Linked DNA regions of Homo sapiens: region 2 is linked to region 1. The links come from fine-mapping of genetic effects on gene expression. A gene starts in region 1. The other region holds a variant in brackets. All regions are shown on one strand. Distances are between the middles of the regions.

Region 1 (10,613 bases):
GACATTTGGATGTTACACTAATAAGAAGCCCATAATACTCACCAACATAAGTGGTGTTACATATATGTGCACATGTGCCTGCTGCCAGAAGACTACTGCACCTCTCATCTCTCCTATTTTTTGTAGACGCTCAACAGCATCAGAGAAAAAGAGCTGTAAAATACTGACATTTGGATGTTACACTAATAAGAAGCCCTTTCGTGCAGATGAAAGGACATGTTATGCACAGACACCCTCTGAGAGGTTCTCAAGTAAGAGACAGGTAACAACCACAGATATGTGAGGAAAACCTCCAAAATGAAAGCAAGAGCTTATAAAATCAAACAGAAATAAAAAAGAACCTGGAAGAAACAAAGCAATGCACAGAGAAGGCCAAAGTTATAATTTATATCCTTAGAAGGCAAAACAAAGTTATAATTTATATCCTTACAGCAAAAAGAGAAAATATAGCAGCCATATAGAAAGCAAAATAGAATGCTATAACTCATCAACAACAGAGAACACAAAGTCGCTCTTTGAATTAAAAAAGTAGAATAGCAGAAATAAAAAAATTCAGTAGGAAGGTTGGAAGATAAAGCCCAGGATATCTGCTATAAAAACAAATAAACAGATGAAAATATTTTTTAAAACCGAAATATAAGAATGATTAGAATTAGATTAGGATCTGTCAGGAAATTTAACTTCAAAGAAACAGCATTTCCAGAAAAAGAGAATAGAAAGAGGGAGAAGAGAAAAATCATCAAAGAAACAATAGAAGAAAATTACACAGAATTTTTTAGACACGGATTTCCATATTGAAAGGCCTCTTAAGAACCTAGCACAATCAGTGAAAAAATACACATCCCGAAGCTCATTACTGTGAAAATTTCAAGCACCAGGGATAAACAGATCATAAAAGTTTTCAGAGAGGGAAATACAAAAGGCATGACAATCAGAAAGTAGGACTAGAGGCTAGGGAAGCATAAGACACAGGACTTTAACATTATTTGACTTCTAAAACAATGAACAGAAATTTTTATAAACACTAAGCAATAATAACTGCACAAAAGTACAAAATAAATAAACGAATAAAAAATAATTTTTTTTTTTGAGATGGAGTTTCGCTCTTGTCACCCAGGCTGGGGTGCAGAGGTGTGATTTCGGCTCACTGCAACCTCTGTCTCCCAGGTTCAAGTGATTCTCCTACCTCAGCCTTGCCAGTAGCTGGGATTACAAGCGCCCAACACCACACCCGGCTGATTTTTGTATTTTTAGTAGAGACGAGGTTTCGCCATGTTGGCCAGGCTTGTCTCGAACTCCTGACCTCAGGTGATCTGCTTGCCTCGACCTCCCAAAGTGCTGGGATTACAGGCGTGAGCCACCACGCTCAGCCAAAAAATAAATTTATTTAATGTTCTTTAGTAGTACCATTGTTTTAAATATACTGTGTTAACTCATTTAACTCTCATAACACCCCAGGAGACTATTAGCCTCATTTCACAGGTGAGGAAACAGGCATTGACAGGTCAAGTAATTTCTCCATAATGACACAAGTAGCAAGTCGTGGAGCCAAAGTTCTAGCTTTCTGAACGTGGTCTTTTTAAAAACTGCAAGATAACATCTCTCAACTGTAAAAGTAAAATTAATTTTAAGAAAGAAAAGAAAATACTACTTGAATTCCCTACCTTGCTGATCTGTTCCTAGACCAACTATGGTTAATTAAAAGTTCTGCCATCATGAAAAACGCTATGCTCCTTGCCAAGCCACAAAAGTGGATGTGTATTTGTGAAGGGGGAGGGGGTGGAGATTTGAGGGTATTTCCTAGTATTTTGAATATTCATGTGTAAAAGGACTTTATGTTATGTGCTTGTGATCTGCTGCTAGATAGTCCATAAAGCAGATTCCGTAACCTAATTGCATTGACAACCTCCACCAAAGGAAATGATGCACTTACATCAGATCACCACTGCGTATTAAGAACAAAGCCTATAAAAATTGCATTAGAAACAGCATAGCTCTCTGTTTTCTAAATTATTTTCATCTACGCCGTTCACATTCTTCGAGCCTTGCAAGGAAAATCTCCTTAATTTTCCTAGTCATTTACATGACTATTAAATATACTGATGCGACAAAAAAAATCACGCTCCTTTACTCACTGTTGCCTTTCACACATCTTTACCTTGTATTATTAACTACATAATGACAGTTGAACATTTTCACGTGACTTTCTTCTGTAGGAGTTTGTGTCATTCACAGCCTCCTACATTTGCTATCCTATCCATTTTGTGTTTTATCGTTACCTACTAACGGGATTCTGGCTTTAGTGGGGGAAGGAAAAAGAGAGAAATACTTATGTCTCTTTTTGAACAATTTTTTATTTCTTTTCAGACCTGGTAACATCAACATTCCCTGGGTATGATAAGGGCGTTAGCATGCAGGTTTAGCATTTCCTTTCTTGGGACTAATAAATTCTCATATGCTAAAGTAGTGGCTTTTGAGATCTCAGACCGCTGCTTCGAAACTCATTCTAATGCAACAGACCTCCTGGGTCATTAGCTGTCGCCCCGCGCAATCTAGGAGTTCCTTTTTCCCACACCTACAGCGGTCCACTTTCTGCCTGTCATGGCCTTCATTTCTGAATCTTTTTTTGTAAGAGGGGGAGGGGTGTTGGTTTTGGGTTTGGATTGATACTTGGTAGCTGCAGCCACCTTTAAGGTCCTGATGCATCAGGGACAGCATCACTGGTCTTCCCAATACGTGGGTGACCGGATCCTAGGCTGTCCGGCCTAGGTGTCAGCCTCGCTCACGGGAAGTTCCTCACCCGCGGCCACAGCGCTTGCACCGTCCCCACAGCCTCCAGGGTCCTGCGTACCCGGCACGAAGGTCACATCCCCCGCGCAGGTGTGACGCGCGCTCGCGCACTCACCGTCTCCTTGGCAGCCGCCACTGGGATGGGCAGCATCCCCCGGCCGCGGGGCGGGTCCTCGGGCTCCGTGGCCGCGCTCTTTGAGGGTCGCCCGGTCGCCGGCGAGCCGGCCCTGGGGTCCCCGTACAGCTGGTAGCATACCAGGCCGACCAGCCCCCCGCCGGCCGCCGCCGCCACGCTCAGCTCCCCCCAGCGCCGCCGCCGCCTCCATGCCGCCTCCGCCACAGCCCTCTCCTCATCCTCTCGGGAGGAGAAGGGCCGGCCAGGAAGGCCCAGGGTGGTCACCGCAGGCCGCCCCCACGGCCCAAGGAGGGGCTGGTGAGCGCAGAGTGGAGGAGACACCCGGGGTGGCGGCCACAAGAGCCTTCGCAGCGCAGCCATAGCGGAGGCCGCCCACACCAGAGCTGGGAGGGGGCAGAGAACGGAGGGGCGGGGGCGGGGGGGGGGGTCGCCGAAATCTCGCGAGAAGTCGGTGCCGCGAGCTTCGCGGCCGGCCGAGAGCGACCCCTACACTCGCGCGGCCCCGGGGACCCGCGACGCCACCTTCAGCGTAGCGGTCCCGTGGTTCGGCCCGGGAAGATCATGGAAGAGGCGGCGGATCCCGGCTGCTCCCCGGCCCCGAACCCCCAGCCCAACCACGCAGTCATAAATAACCGCGCCAGCCCGGCGACACCTGGCTACGCGACAGCGCGACACTGCGGGCACAGCCGAGTCAGCGTAACTGAGGCGCGGCCGAGTGCGGGGCTCTCTGGGGCCCGCGCCGCTGCTACGGGCGGGGTGGGTCTCCGAGCTGGGCTCAGCGCCCGTCTGGGACACTCACATTCCCTAACGGTCTCCTGACCTCAGGAAACTCAAGGTCTTGACTCAAGGTCGTGAACGATTTGCAATTGTATCTTCACATATACGACACAAATGAGGTATAAGCATTTGGCTCAAGTCATAACGATTGCAAATTAAGGCAAACACTTTGACGACTGAAGGGCAGCTTCCGGACTTTTGATGGGAGAAGGCTAATGCTGTTTTTTAGAAGCATTAGCACACCCGCGGTCACTTAATTCAACAAATCAGAACTGTCTTGTGCATATAAAAGTTAAAAATTTTAAAACTTCTGTGAATAAAGATAAAATCTTGAACGATACCCTGATTTTTCAGGGAAGCGCTGTTTGTATAAATATAAAATAAATGAGAAGCGTATTGTGTCATCTTTTTGTTTTTACTGTACTTTTTGTTTGCTATGTTATCAGTATCAGTTTTTATGAGAAAGTGTAGATGAAGTTCCTATCAGTTTCTCTCCCCAGACCCCAGTTTTGGTAACTTGAATTATGTTAGCTTTTTCTTCCTACTATGGAATGGTGCCAGGAGTCCCTAAAATATTGTGGATCTAAGGGGACAGACAACTAAATACAGTGGTCTCAATTGGGCTGCAGTGACAAGAGAATACACCATCAGTTGATTCTGGCAATTCTTGTAAAGACTAAAGGCTTTCAGAGACGACCAAATGAGTTTTTTCTGGCTCAGGTCCTACAATTTCTTCCCTTTTTTTTTTCTTTTTTTGAGACGGAGTCTTGCTCTGTTGCCCAGGCTAGAGTGCAGTGGCACATTCTCGGCTCACTGCAACGTCCGTCTCCCTGGTTCAAGCGATTCTCCTGCCTCAGCCTCCCGAGTAGCTGGGATTACAGGCACCCGCCACCGTGCCTGGCTAATTTTTGTGTTTTTAGTAGAGATGGGGGTCTCACCATCTTGGCCTGGCTGGCCTCGAACTCCTGGAGGTCCTGCAATTTCTATTCCTAACACCTTGCATGTAAATAGCACATCAGGTACACCCTGTTACCTCTTATTTTAATAGAGGTTAATGGCATTTTGCTTTCTTAAAGCTGCTAAAAGCGGTAAGAAGAAAAATCTTCTGTAGCAGATGAACAAATTTTGTGTATTTTAAAACCTGTCTCTGAGTTTTCTTCAGTTTCAGCCTGTGGGTTTTATGGAGTCAATGCCTAAGGAAGACTCTGATAGCGTCTTGCTTTATCACCAAATTTTCCTCAATTTATGCTTTCTCTATATTCTGTGAAATGGTAGTTTCCCCAAATAAATTATCTTCTGGGTAATAATTATATATATTATATATAATATAATAATCATATTGGCCGGGCGTGGTGGCTCACACTTGTAATCCCAGCACTTTGGGAGGCCGAGGCGGGTGGATCATGAGGTCAGGAGATAGAGCCCATCCTGGCTAACACGGTGAAACCCCATCTCTACTAAAAATACAAAAAACTTAAAAAAAAAAAAGCCAGGTGTGGTGGCATGCGCCTGTAGTCCCAACTACTCAGGAGCCTGGGACAGGAGAACTGTTTGAACCCGGGAGGTGGAGGTTTCAGTGAGCCGAGACTGTGCCGCTGCACTCCAGCGTGGGTGACAGAGCGAAACTCTGTCTCAAAAAAAAAAAATTATAATAATAGTTCTGACACTGTTTACTTTGAACTGAACATGATTTCCTGATTTTCTCATAAATTCTTATTATAGTCTAATGCCAGAATTCTTGGACAAACTGATCAATTTTTACTAGTTGCATGTTAAAAGCTAAGTAGTTCTAAAGAAGATTAGGGAGGTAATACAATAACATCACATTACAGATGAGGAAAATGACATCCTTCATCTAAGATGACAAATACAGACACATACGTATAGATTTCTATGTAGTTTCTCTATAGTTTTCTAAATTTGATAGAGCTCCTGCAAACAATTTATCTGGTTAGAAGCTAAGTACTGCTGTGAGAAGGGCTAAGTTTATGTTTGTAGATCAGTCAGAGAACTTTGGATAAAATACCTCTCACGTGCAAAAACAGCTTTACTAATAATTTTCAACAGTACTTTCCCTCTAAAGGTGAAATTTCCTTAAGAATAGTTACTGTTTTCTTCCCACGTTTGATGCTCTGTAACTATAGCTACACAAAAATAACCAAATTCCCTTGTTATGTGGATATTTTTCTGAGTTTAATTCCCAGAGGAAAAATTTTAAGAAAATATGATATTAGGAATTTGGAACCTTTTTTTTTTGAAATTTCAGGTAATATTGTTGGATCAATATAGAGTCAACCCAGTATCCCTTATCTTTTATGTCAATTCTACTGAGCATTAAGAATAACCCCCAAAATGCCCCTACTCCACAGTGAGAGCCCACACCTTGAAAGAAATATCCACTTATCGTTCACTATGGTCTAAATAAAAAGAAATGTTCTGAAACAATAAAAATGTTTCAAACAATGGGGATTAAGCCAAAAAGGGTTTTCCAGGAAAGCATATACCTCAGTGAATAAGTAATAAATTAGAAGTGAAGAAATCTGGACTCCAGTCTTGGATTTGCTGCATCTTAATTATAATGCTTTGGAAGCCACAGTCTCTAAAATAGTGGAGTTGAAATAGATGATCACCCCTGAACCCATCTTTCTAATGAACTAAAATGCTCCAAGTGTATCAGTAAACCATAGAAAGATACTTCATGGTATTTTTCATGTATCATTTCTCTTCTGAAAATCTACAATTGGCCTAAGATTGTTTTATTCTTTCAACTTAAAATTCCATCCCCGGACCACGCAGGCTAACGTCTGTAATCCCAGCACTTTGGGAGGCCAAGGTGAGTTGATCACTCAGGAGTTCGAGACCAACCTGGGCAATATGGCAAAACTTCGTCTCTACAAAAAATACAAAAATTAGCCAGGCATAGTGGTGCGTGCTTATGGTCCCAGCTACTCGGGAGGCTGAAATAGGAGGATGGCTTGAACCGGGGAAAAGGAGGTTGCAGTAAGCCATCACTGAGCCACTGCACTCTAGCCTGGGTGAGAGAGCAAGACTATGTTTAAAAAAAAAAAAATCCATTCCTTTATCTAATTATTTTAACCTTCTACTGCATTTAAAATTGCAAATACGTTAGTGATTTTGAAAAGTTTGAAAAAGTGGAATATAAGTGCAATAGGCAGGAATGTCTTGTTTAACAAAACTTCTATTAAAATATACTGCATTCCTTATTTTGGTCATTCTGAGCTCCAGATTCTTGACTAGTTAAAAGAGCAGCAGTTACATCTGAGATCTGTATCAGGGCACATGAACCACCCCATCCCCAGGTCCACTCAAGTCTACCAGCAGAGAGCAAGGTTGCAACCATCTTCTTCTCTCTTGGGAAAGTTGTCATCATTTTCTCAAATTGCCTTCCACCTTCCATGCTGTCTTCCTTAGGGCAAAACTGACATAGGAGACAGTGTTGGGGAAGGTATGTTCTTGCTCTGTTTTCTTCAAAGTGCTACCCACCAGCAATCTAGAACTCAATTCCTCAGCATCCAGGGCTATGGAAACCAAGTTACACAAGACACTGAGGGTCTGTTTTCTGTTTTGATGAGCTCTCATTCCCAAAGACTGTGATCTGTATCTCACCCTTTTTCCATTAGGCAAAGCCAAGCTGACTCTAAGCAACATGAGGCCAGGGTATGCATCTTCTAGCCCAGTTCCTGGCACACATTAGGACCTCAATTATATTTACTAAATGAAAAGCAATGTCTTGAAAAGGGGGGAAGGTGGAGGTCAACATAGGAAGGCAAGTTAGGTGACAAGGAAATACAATGGCCCATCAGACACTAAACAAGCTGACAAACCAAGCAGCACATCAATGAGGAAATGCAATCAACACAGATGGGAGGCCAAAGGGAAAAAGCAAGGGACTGGCAAAGAAGGATCACAGATAGAGTGTGGGCTAGGTGAAGTGGCTCACACCTGTAATCCCAGCACTTTGGGAGGCCAAGGCAGGAGGATCATTTGAAGCCAGAAGTTCAAGGCCGGCCAGAGAAACATAGTGAGAACCTGTCTCTACAAAAATTAAAATTAAAATTAGCCAGGAGTGGTGGTGCATGCCTGCAGTCCCAGCAGCTCAGGAGGCTGAGGTGGGATGATTGCTTGCCCCAGGAGTTCGAGGCTGCAGTGAGCTATGATCATGCCACTGCACTCCAGCCCCTGGGTGACAAAGCAAGACCCTCTAAAAAAAGGGGAGGGGGGTGGACAACAAAGTATGATCATGCAGAAAGCTTGATTCAAGAACAGATTTTGTGATTTTCAGATTCTAGCACTGAAGTTATCCTGTTACTATGATTTGGCCGTATCCTCCTGGACTAGAGCCTTAAAGCCATAGGTTTTCCCCAAGGCTCTCTCCATTTTTTTTTTTTTCTAGGCGGAGTCTTGCTTTGTCACCAGACTGGAGCGCAGTGGCGCGATCTCGGCTCACTGCAACCTCCGCCTCCCAGGTTCAAGCAATTCTCCTGCCTCAGCCTCCCGAGTAGCTGGGACTACAGGCGAGCGCCACCATGCCCAGCTAATTTTTGTATTTTTAGTAGAGACGGGATTTCACCATGTTGGCTAGGATGGTTTCGATCTCCTGACCTCATGATCTGCCCGCCTCGGCCTCCCAAAGTGCTGGGATTACAGGCGTGGGCCACAGTGCCCAGCCGGCTCTGTCCATTCTTTTGGTCCTCCGAGGAAAATGCAGCATCATCCATGGCCAAACATCAGTGATTGACTGGCCACACCTCCCCTTTTGTTCTTAGATCTTTCACTGGGGACAATAACCAAGCTGGCAATTGTACACTTTTAACTACCTTTCCAGAGCAGTAACACCCTCGGTTTGACTACTACGTCTATCCAGTCTGTTTTACATAATTTCCAGGGTCTTTGTTGATGGTGTCTCACTGTTCAATTTCTGCTGTTTAAGTCCCACAATCCCCTGTGTCTTTGTTCTCCATTTGGTGGTAGTGACTTCTTATGTACTTGGGACACAGGCAATAGCAGGACGGACTTACTACCAGCAAAGCCTCCCACCGGAAAACAAGGAAGCTCTTTCTCAATTGTCTTTTCCTATTTTCATGTCTGATAGTGATTAAAGCTTCTATGTCCATTAAAAAGTGTCTTCTGGTGCAGAATAACCTCATAGTAACATAATGATCACCCATTACACAAGAGTGACACTTTGGTAGCAAAATGTTATGGGATCTTTGGGGTGTTGTTTTCCTGTCCAGAAACCTCTGTGGCCAGTGGTTCCTTTGCCTGAGTTTTGATTGGGCCCGCTGGGCTTAGCAGTGTCTACTGAAGCTGGACATATGCATATCCTATGACCCATTAATTTCACTTTTTAGGTGAAAGACTCATGAAAAGAAATGAGTACTTATGTCCATCAAAAGACATATACAGGAGGCTGGGCACAGTGGGTGGCTCATGCCTGTAATCCCAGCACTTTGAGAGGCCAAGGCGGGCAGATCACGAGGTCAGGAGATCGAGACCATCCTGGCTAACACGGTGAAACCCCATCTCTACTAAAATTACAAAAAAATTAGCTGGCTGTGGTGGTGGGCACCTGTAGTCCCAGCTAATCGGGAGGCTGAGGCAGGAGAATGGCATGAACCCGGGAAGCGGAGCTAGCAGTGAGCCGAGATCGCGCCACTGCACTCCAGCCTGGGTGACAGAGTGAGACTCCATCTCAAAAAAAAAAAAAAAAAAAAAGACATATAGAGGAATATTCATAGTAGCATCATTTCTAATTGGCAACAAACCAGAAACTATTCATATGTTCATCAACAGTGGCTTGGATTATTTAAAAATGTGGCATATTCACATAATGAAATGATATAAAGCAATGAAAATTACTGAATTGCAACTACATGCAATCACTGGGATAAATTTTAAAGCAAAAGTGAGGTAAAGAAGGCAGACACAAAAGAACCAACTTTATTACTCTATTTTAAAAGCTCAACAACAACAACAACAACAAATAGATATAAATAACATTAGACATTAGGATGGTGGTCTCCCTGGGTGCAGGGAAGTGATTAGAAGGCAGAAAAAGGAGCTTTGGGAGTTCTGTGTCTTGATATGGGTGCCAATGACACGTGTATTTACTCTATAAATATTCGTAGAGCTGTCCAGTTATAATTTCTATAACATTTTTATATACGTAACACTTCAATAAAAAGTTTATATAGAAGAAAACATAGATTTTCTTCCTAATGCTCTTATACTAATGTGTTATTTACTAGAGGACTTTGCTCAGTTATGAACTATACAACTTTAAAGGAATGTGTAGAGCTTGAAAAGAGTTCAACTAAGAACAATAAAATTGATTGAAGAATTGGAAACTAAAGGAAAAGTTTAGCTTATATAAGCTTGATATAGCCTGAGAAGATTTAACCAAGGAGTATTTTAATAAACATCTTTTACTACTTGAAGACTACTAAGAAGATACTATTAGTGATTTTTCGTATTTATTAAGGAAAAGACCAAAAGGAACTTTGTATTTTAAGCAAACAATGTAGTGTTTTAACTTCTTTAACTTGCAGCATTTTCTCCTCTGAAGCGTCCATATGGACAGAGCCAGTGGGTATGTGATCGTAAGGCCTAGTGCAACCAGTACATACCCTTGGTTCTGGCTCTAACCCCCGACTGTCAGGTGTTGGATGGGGAAATTGCTTCAGGAGCAGATAAACAAATAGAAGGGCAGTCTTCAGAACAGATGGAAAGCTCAGAATAAAGAGGGAGCCATTAGAGACATCAAGAATAGCATAAGGTTAGTCAGTGTACATACCTGCAGAAGTTTAGTGGGATGGCAACCAGTTTCATCCCCTGCCAACTTCAGTTGATTGATATTGGTTGTCCAGAACACTGTGCTAAGTAAAATTAT
Region 2 (10,613 bases), 110 kb before region 1:
CCAGTCTAGAATAATTTTAAATATTTGCACAGTATTCTATTCTGTAGAAGTACTATAATTCATTAAACCATTCCTTTATTGTTAATTATGTAGGTGTTTTCTAATTTTTCACTGGCATAACATACCATAAATAACTTGGCTCATCTAACATTCCCCTTCTATTTAGTTGTTTTCTTTGGACAGGGCCCCAGAAGTAAAATTAAATCAAAGAGTCAGTTTGAAAAACTATGTAGCTGTGATGATTTTAAATATGTGCACAAATTCTTTGATACTTCGCCTTTCAAGAAGTGAAGGCTCATCCCCTACCCTTGAGTGCTGAGTGGACTTAGTGTCTTAGTCCATTCTGGCTGCTATAATAAAGTATCATAAACTAGGTAGCTTCTAAACAACAGAAATTTCTTTCTCACAGTTCTGGAGGCTGGGAAGTCTAGGATGAAGCCACTGGCAGATTTGATGTCTGGTGAAGGCCAGCTTTCTGGTTCCCTCAAAGATGATTTTTCTCTGTACTCTTACATAGTAGAAGTGGCCAACGCGCTTGCTGGGGCCTCTTTTATAAGGGTGCTAATTTCTTTCATGAGGGCTTCATCCTCAGGACCTAATCACTTCCCAAGGCTCTGATATGGTTCAGCTGTGTCCCCACCCAAATCTCATCTTGAATTATAGCTCCCATAATTCCCACGTGTTGTGGGAGGGGCCCAGTGGGAGATAATTGAATCATGGGGACGGTTTCCCCATACTGTTCTTGTGGTCATGAATAAGTCCCACGAGATCTGATGACTTTATAAGGGGAAACCCCTTTCACTTGGCTCTCACTCTCTCTTTGCCTGCTATCATGTAAGATGTGCCTTTTGCCTTCTGCTATGATTGTGAGGCCTCTCCAGCCACGTGGAACTGTGAGTCCATTAAATCTCTTTTTCTCTATAAATTATCCATCTTATGTATGTCTTTATCAGCAGCGTGAAAATGGACTAACACAGGCTCCACCCCTAAACGCTGCCATCACCTAGGGGTTAGGGTTCCCACATATGAATTTTGGCAGAACACAAACATTCAGACCATAGCACTTAGTGACTCACTTCTAATGAATAAAATAAAGCAGAATTAATAGTGGGAAATTTCAAAGACTGGTTCAAAAAAAGACACCACGGCTTCCTCCTCAGCCTCACATCACTTGAGCCGTGAGAAGTTAGCTGCCCTGTTGTCATGAGCAGCCCCATCGAGAGGGCCATGTAGCAGAGGATGGGGGTCGCCATGTGAGTGAGTGTTCTGGAAGTCAGTCCTCCAGCTGCAGTCATTCCTTCTGATGCCTGTAGTGCGAGCCAACAGCTTGACTGCACCCTCAGGAGAGACCTTGAGTTAGACTCACCCAGCAAAGCTGCTCCTGACTGACTCAGAAACTGTGGGAAATAATGTTTGTTTTCTTAGGCAGCTGCAATTTGGGGTAATTTGCAATGCCGCAATAGATAAATAATACAGCAACAACGGAACTATTGTTTTGGAACATTTGTTTAACTCGGTTCGAACATGAGGCACTTAATGAGCATCCCAACTCCAGTTAAACGCAACAAATTACTGCCATTTAAGGTACATGTAAAGAGCCAGTGAGGGACATAGGGAGGACGAAGAGGGAGAGAAAAGGGAGAAGAGAATAAGAGAGGAAGAAAGGAAAAAATAAGTTAGCAAGAGAGGGACATGGGAAAGATGACTACATGTCCTAGTTTAGCTTGGATAGTCCCAGTTTGGAGCACTGTCTTGATGTAATTCTGAATAGAGTCCCTTTTCACTTTCAAAAGTGTCCCGGTTTGGATGATAAATTATATGACCCTAGATATAGGCCAATAATACGCCTTCCCCCAATCCAGTTCTTCGCTTTAATATTCCGTCTTTTCCCGATACCTCGTGCCCATTCTGCTCCAGCTCCACAGCACTGCTCAAGAGTCCTAAATTTCCCACCAAACCATAGTCTCACTGGCACCTCTTCCATGGCTTAGAAGTCACCTCTGTTTACTTCCCAGTACTCTTGCATCACAGTAAGGAATTCATCATGGTGGTTAAGAGCTTGGCTCAGGAATTAGACAACCTGGGTCTGAGTCTTGGTTTTATCCTTATTGCTATATAACCCTAGGGAAATTACTTAACTTCTTTATGCCTCAGATATGAGCTGGGGCATATATTATCTACTCTCTCATAGGAATGTTGAGGATATTAATAACAGTATGTGCATAAAATGCTCAGCATAGTATCTGGCATTATATATGTATATATATGCTAAGCATTTTATATGCATAATATATGTGATGACTGTATGTTAGCTACTATCAGCATTTAGTACCCGAGAAAAAAATCCATCTCATGGAGATGCTTTTTTTATTGTTGTTTTTGAGACAGAGTCCTGTTCTGTCGCCCAGGCTGGAGTGCAGTGGCGTGATCTCGGCCCACTGCAACCTACACTTCGTGGGTTCAAGCGATTCTCCTGCCTCAGCCTCCTGAGTAGCTGGGACTACAGGCGCGTGCCACCACACCCGGCTAATTTTTTGTATTTTTAATGGAGACAGGGTTTCACCGTGTTAGCCAGGATGGTCTTGATCTCCTGACCTTGTGATCCACCCGCCTTGGCCTCCCAAAGTGCTGGGATTACAGGCGTGAGCCACTGAACCCGGCTGGAGTTGCTTTTTAGTTGCTGGGACATGCATCTTACTAGAAAACTCTCAAGTATGTCATTGTATTTTTGTTTTAATGTTAGGAGGTAGAAAAAGTTAGGAAATGTGTCAAGCAGTAAAGGAAAAGTCAAGCAGACTATATCTACCTTTCAGGCTTGATATGCCTTACTTTGCTTATTCATTCATTCATTCACTTATTTTTCAACAAATATATATTTGTTATCTATCAAATACCAGGCACTATGCTAAGCACAGGATTAAACAGCACTTTTCAAAAAATAAATACCTAGAGCTTTATTCCCATTTCTTAAAGGAAAATCTTACATTAAAAAAAGCTATTGTGTGGCACTACTAAATAAGTAGGGGTTTGAAGCCAAATTTAGAAATTATATATAGACACATATATGTTTTTCTGATGATCAAATCTTTCAAATTGGCTTTGAACAAACAGGAGCAATTTTCTGCTATAAAAAGGAATGTATTTTAGCTTTTGACCTAATGATTTAAAAAAAAAACTAAGAGTGGGAAAATGCAAATTACGTGAATATATAATTTGGCATCGGTGACATATCAGCAGAAGGAGCTGCTGACAGGAAGACAGTTTTTTTTTTCTTTTTAGCCGTAGGCATTCCTCATTTCTGTTTTTAGGAACAAGGAAAACTAGTAGACAGAAATATCCCTGGGTACATGGACTACATATTTCACATGCACAGCATAAAATATTTAATAAAACGAAGGAGGTGCCTGAAAAATCAAGACTTCAATAGATGAAGGTGGTCACAACAATTAAAATACATCCTTTCTTCCCCCTCATGGCACAGGATAATGAGGTATGGAAAAAACATGTAGGGTTGCTTTAAACTATTTGGCAATATTTGCCAGATGAAATTTTGAAAAAACATTTTCTTTTCAGCGTTTTCATTCCACTTGAATAATGAGTACCACATTATAGGTTTCGATAGCCCATGAATTTTTATCTTTATTTTAATCGTTAAGGTCAAGTTAGCATTGATTACTAATAAGTGATTCTAAATGAATAGTATTATTTTAGGAATAATAGGAACTAACGTTTATTAAATGTTTACTGTGTGCTCAGTTCAGTGCTTTAAAGGCGATTTCCCATTTAATTCTCACCACCACCCAAGGACACAGCTGCTATCATGATCTCATCTCACACATGAAAAAGCTGAGAGGTGGAAAGTGTTACGACCTTGTTTAATTACAAAGGAAGTTAGCAAAAGAGCCAAGATTGGAACTCAGAGAAGTCTGACTCCAGAGCCCATGCTTACCCGCCATGCTATTCTGAATGGAAGGGCTCATGTAGTTCACCTGTTTATTCATATTTTCTAATTTGTTCTTTTTGAAATAGTGATTCCTGTTCAGATTCCACTTTTAATCCTTGCCCATTTTCTCAATTCTATGAAAGGCTCATTTAACTTAATAGTTATGCAAGTCCACACCTGTCTGAATGATACACTGGCTCATTCATTTAGTTGAAAGGTAGACACCAAATTGATTTTTAAAAAGACATACGAACCTAATTGAAAAAAAATTCATGAATCACCTTAATGAGGAATTGGTACCAGGAAATGCAGTACAGAGAACCTCAGACAATTTGCTTTTGGAAAAGCGCTAATCAACCACATATTCATCTGGAATGAAAATGCCTCTCTAGCAAGACATTGTGTGATAATGAAGTACAGGAGGTGAGAGCCGTCTCAGTGACTTTTAATTATTTCTCATTCTTCTGTGTCTGAAGACGATGGTGCGTATATTACCGAAAAGTGAGGTGACCAGTATTCTTTCCAGCATTGGGTAAATTAAAGACAAAGTGGACATCATTTGCAAATTCTTGCATTTTTTTCTTTGCAGCTGTTGTTCATCATTTCCTTCCCTAATTTGTTCCAAGATTAGCTGACTTGTCACAGTCATTTCCTCGTGGTCCACCACCCTGCCATGACGGTTGAAGGTATGTTCTGTGTTCTTTAAACCTCTATTTCTTTTTTTCCGAAACAGCTTCTGCCTCATTCAAAATAAAAACATTATAACATCTTGCTATTATCTATTTTACATACATTTACATTCTGCTGGAGTTACACCCTTTTTAATGCAAACCTCTTTGGAATTTGGTTGTTGAGTCCCTCATTCTTATTGATGAAACTCAAGAAATCAGATCAGACATCATAACTCTTTAAACATCAAATTCTCTTAAGAGTTTATCACTATGTGGGTGACATCTTTGGTATCATGAGCATTTTTACCATCTTAATATTCCTTCCTCCATTATAATT[C/T]TGAGAAAATCAAAATCCACTTCCATGTAATAGAAAATATTACTCTTGGCTGGGCATGGTGGTTCATGCCTGTAATCCCAGCACTTTGGAAGGCTGAGGCAGGCGGATCACAAAGTCAAGAGATCAAGACCATCCCGGCCAATATGGTGAAACCCTGTCTCTACGAAAAATACAAAATTTAGCTGGGCGTGGTGGTGCGCACCTGTAGTCCCAGCTACTCAGGAGGCTGAGGCAGGAGAACTGCTTGAATCTGGGAATCGGAGGTTGCAGTGAGCCGAGATTGTGCCACTGCATTCCAGCCTGGCGACAGAGTGAGACTCTGTCTCAAAAAAAAAAAAAAAAAAAAAAAAAAAAAAGGAAAAGAAAATATTACTCTTTCCCTTGTCTGTTTCTTACCATCCTGTATTTATCCAAACTTAGACATACTTACACACTTGGATACTGGCCCAAATTTCCATATCCCAAGAAAAGATGGGCTACATAGTTTTTGAAGCCCAGTGTGAAATGAAAATACAGGGCCCCCTTTTTTTTTTTTTTTTTAAAAAAAAGCAGGAAATAGTGTGGTTTAAGGTATTAAATATAAAACTTTTTTCTTCCTTCCGTGGTCTGTCTCTCTCAACTTGTCGTAGTGTTTTTATGTGCTATTTAATATCATTCTAAGTAAATAAAATTTAAAAAAATTATTAATATGATGTTCTCACAGCCACTGGGAGAAAAAAAATTAGTATGATGTTTACTGCTTATATTGGGCAATGCCAGTTTTAAATGCAAATAGAACATTTAACTCCTATGTAGAATCACTGAAATTACATAATTCATACCTCATGGCACTGATAAGCCAAACTTAGATAGGGGTACATAGGCAACCCCAAGGATATTGCAACCTTTGGGCTAGAAGCCTTTACGTACTTGGATTGAAGATAAGTGAAAGAAAGGTTTGGACGGGAGTGGTGGCTCACGCCTGTAATCCCAGCACTTTGGGAGGCCGATCATGAGGTCAAGAGATGAAGACCATCCTGGCCAACATGGTGAAACCCCGTTTCTACTAAAAATACAAAAATTAGCTGGGCGTGGTGGCGTGCACCTGTAGTTCCAGCTACTTGGGAGGCTGAGGCAGGAGAATCACTTGAACCCAGGAGGTGGAGGTTGCAGTGAGCTGAGATCACGCCATTGCACTCCAGCCTGGCAACAGAGAGAGACTCCGTCTCAAAAAAAAAAAAAAAAGGTTTATCTCCCCTGAGTTGTGGTCCCCAGTTGGCTACAGCCTCTGCACCACGGCACTGCCAGCCTAGGGTAGAATGGCTTCCACCATGCTCTGCCTGAAGACTTTCTGGGTCACGTATGCCCTGCCCAACTCCTATCTATACCTGCACCCAGGCCGCTGTTGGGGGATGAAGACTGGCAGCAGTAGCTGGACAGGGTGGGGAGGGTGAGGCCCTTGGCAAGACAGAGGGTAGCCAAGAATCCTAGGAAGGTGGGGATGGAATGGGAAGCAGAGCCATGAGTGAGCAGAGGCTCTAATCCCCTCCACAAGCTCCATTTTCCCAGTGACTTAAAAATTGTTAAGAATTTCAAAAGGGTGACAGCGGAGGATTAAAACCCATATGTGGAGCCCTTCTGACATGGGTCTTTGTGCAACTGCGGTGGTCACAAGGCCATGAACCCAACCCAACTGTGCAAGGGACTTCGTATTTAACCCAAGGAGATAGGTATAAGCAAACAACATCGCTTTACAATAAAATAATGAAAAATAACTTTTTTATTGTTGCTGTCCGTGATTCATACATAGAAATCTAAAAATACCTACTTTATTTCCTTTAAAAATATATGAGAAATGTCCCTCTCATGAATATAAGAAAACTCTTAGGGAAATATAATTTTCCCTGCTGTAACCATATTCCAGCCTACTGGTTAATAACCATGATGATGATACTAGCTGAACATACCCTAGGAGTTGTGTTGGAGATTGTGCTAGGTATTTTCCATGAATTTACTTTATGTGAATTATCTCAACTATGTCCTATAACATGGAGTAAGTACAATTTTTAGCTCTACTTTATAGATGAAGAAGCTAACATAGAGAAGTCAACTTGTCCAAGATCAGAAAATGAAAAGAATGATCTATTTGAGTTTATTACACTAATGTAGAATAATTTAATATAGGAAGCCTATAAAAAGATATATTACATCTGGAGGTCAAGTTGGAAAAATGATATAACCGATTTATCAGTGACTACTGAAAGGCATTTGAGATGATTCAACACTCAATCCTTTTTCTTCCAAATTCAGGAAATAAAGGATACTTTCTTCTGATCAACAGCAAAATGTTAATTTGAACAATTACAGAGATCATCCTATTAAAATGGGAATTCGAAAGATTTCTGCTGCCTCTATTAGTATTTTACACTCTTCTGGAGGCTATGATCAATGCAATAATACAGAAGATAGAAATAGAAGCAATAATGTAGATAGGGCAAAGACACATTTGCCTTAGTTTGCATGTAATATGACTGCCCACCAGAAAACCTAAGAGAATCAATTGAAAAACTTTCAGTACTACCAAGAGTTCAGTTAAGTGCTGAACAAATAAAATCAGTTGCTTCTCTGTATACCAACAAAAATCAGATAGAAAATCTAACGGAAAAATGTCCATTTTTTTTTTTTTTGAGACAGTCTTGCTCTGCTGCCCAGGCTGGAGTGCAGTGGCGCAATCTCAGCTCACTACAAGTTCCACCTCCCAGGTTCAAGCAATTCTCCTGCCTCAGCCTCCCGAGTAGCGGGACTACTCCTGCCCACCATCACACCTGGCTAATTTTGGTATTTCTAGTAGGGATGGGGTTTCACCATCTTGGCCAGGCTGGTCTCAAACTCCTGACCTTGTGGTCCACCTGCCCTGGCCTTTCAAAGTGCTGGGATTACAGGCATGAGCCACTGCGCCTGGCCAAATGTCCATTCTTAAAAGCAACAATAGGTATGCATATTATAGGAAAGACCATAATTGTAAGAAGCAGGCATGACCTGGATAATGAAACCCATAAATCTTGACTTGTAAGTAGAATATACAACTGAACTCAAATAATTATCACTGAATGAAATGGTATAGTATAAAGGTGTTGTGATGGTTAACGTCATGTGTCAACCTGACTGGGCCATTTGGTGCCCAGATACTTGACAAATGTTATTCTGGGTGTGTCTGTGAGGGTGTTTTTGGAGGAGTTTAACATTTAAATCAGTAGACTAAAGCAGATTGCTATCCCTGATGTGGGCAGGCCACATCCAATCATTTGAAAGTCTGAAGAGAACAAAAAGGCTGACTTTCGGCCAGTGTGGTGGCTCACGCCTATGATCCCAGCAATTTGGGAGGCCAAGGCGGGCGGATCACGAGGTCAGGAGATTGAGACCATCCTGGCTAACATGGTGAAACCCCGTCTCTACTAAAAAATAAAAAAATTAGCCAGGTGTGGTGGTGGGCACCTGTAGTCCCACCTACTCGGGAGGCTGAGGCAGGAGAATGGTATGAACCTGGGAGGTGGAGCTTGCAGGGAGCAGAGATCATGCCACCGCACTCCAGCCTGAGTGACAGAGTGAGGCTCTGTCTCAAACAAACAAACAAACAAACAAACAAACAAAAGGCTGACTTTCTTCTGAGTAAGACAATTCCTTCTGCCCATCTGCTTTCAAGTTGAAACATGAGCTCTTCCTAGATCTTAAGCCTGCCAGCCTTTGGACTAGAATTACACCATTGGCTCTCCTGGTTCTCAGGCTTTAGGATTGAAATAAGAAATACAACGTCTGCTCACCTGAGTCTCCAGCTTGCCACCTCCCCCTGCAGATCTTGGGATTTGTCAGCCTCCATAATCACATGTGCCGATTTCTTACAATAAATCTCTTTATGTACATCCCATTGGTTCTGTTTCTCTGGAGAACCATAATACAATTGTCAATCAGTCCAAATTAATTTATAATTTTAAAGTGAGTAAATAAAAATCTCACTTGGAGAAGATAAAACAATTCTAATATTCATCTGAAAGGATAAGCCAGTATGAATAGTTTTTAAAAATTAAAAAGAGGAATTTACATGTGGCTATTGAAGATGGAGGCACGTTAGTCTTACAAAATAGTCTAACATATTATAAAGTAAGTAAAACAATGTAGTTACAAGAACAGCCAGATAGTCCAAATGAAGAGAATAGTTTATTTATTTACATCCCCACACAAGGAGTATGCTGAAATAGATTTAGGTATGTAAAAATCTTTTTAAATATTTAAAATATAATTTGCATTATATTAGGTGGCAAAAAGGAAGAATTATTCCATAAATAGTGCTGGATAAGTTGGTTAGATATTTGTGGGTCAAACAAACTAGGTCCTCATTTTTTACCAGGTAACAAAATTAGTCCCAGGTGGATTTTTTTAGTTATATGCAAAGAAAATAGAAACAATAAAATATATGACAGTTTATTAAATTGGAAGAGGTATTTCTAAGCTTAAAAGCAGTAAGGAAATGGCAACTAAAAAGATCACATCCAAATACATAAAAATGAAAATCTTTGAGATATATATATAAATAAAACTGAAATAATACACTGGAAGAATACGTGCAACTTATAGGACAGCCAAATGATCTATATATTTGATATACAAAGAAAGTGAATGAACAGATTTAAAAAAATATATGTGGCAAAAGACAGAAATAGATAACCCATAAATAACAAAAATCTTAATGGTTAGCAAAAAATGTCAATAACAAAGGGGTTTATTTCTAGCTTCTGTTAATAGTGGAGCAGTTTGATTGGACTAATCCTCCAATTAAAAACAAACAAACAACTAGATAGTGCACTTTCCCCATCATAACCAGAATACATGGGTTCAGGAATCAAAAGTAGGATGAAAGAATGGCTCCTCTATTATATTTGTCTTAGTCTGTTTCAGCTGCTATAACAAAATAGCTTATACTGGGTAATTCATAAACAACAGAAACTTATTTCTTACAGTTCTAGATGCTGGGAAGTCCCAGATCAAGCAGATTCAGTGCCTGGCGAGGGCTTGCTTTCTGCTTCCAATATGGCATCTTCTTGTGGCTCTTCACCTGGAGGAAGGGGTGAACAGTTCCCTTGCACCTCTTTTACCAAGGCACTAATCTCATTTATGAGGGTTCCACTCTCATGACTTAATCACTTCCTAAAGGCCCCATTTCTTAATACTATTACGTTTGTGATTAGATTTCAACATATAAATTTTGGGAGGTCACCAACATTCAGACCGTAGCAACACCTAATAACACACTTGCAGAATATTTGCTGCTGCTTCTGGCATCTTTGAGCTCTGCCATTTCAGAGATCTGAGTTCTTAAAGGGAACATGGTTTCCACCATGAGACACAATGGTTCCACTGAATTGGAGAAAGATTTCCATTTGGCTATTCTGGACTCCTCATGCTACTGAATCAACAGGCAGAAAGGTGGATTGCTCTACTAGGTGGAGTGACTGATCCCTATTGCCAAGAGGAAACTGGGTTGCCTTTATACATTAGGGGCAAGGAAGACTATGTCTGTAACCCAGGAGACAGTTTGGGGTGTATATTAGTACTCCATATGCAATAGAAAAGTGTAGTAGAAAAGTACAGAAACCAAAATAAAAGGCAGGATAATTGAGGACTTGGA

The links. PIP is the estimated chance that this variant, and not a neighbour inherited with it, causes the effect.
Region 2: its variant is fine-mapped to the expression of MICU3 in whole blood (TOPMed, PIP 0.94).

Annotation. Positions count from the first base shown.
Region 1 is chr8:17,019,953-17,030,565 of GRCh38, reverse strand. It overlaps MICU3 (mitochondrial calcium uptake family member 3), which reads right to left and starts at 3,328. Exons shown (of 15, transcript NM_181723.3): 1 at 2,906-3,328. The coding sequence starts at 3,286. RefSeq lists an enhancer at 2,701-2,790 and a silencer at 2,941-3,350.
Region 2 is chr8:17,132,400-17,143,012 of GRCh38, reverse strand. It overlaps a transcript of MICU3 not described here. Among named protein-coding and RNA genes, the nearest start is that of ZDHHC2, 19 kb to the left of the region's middle. The variant C/T (reference allele first, on the strand shown) is at 4,952.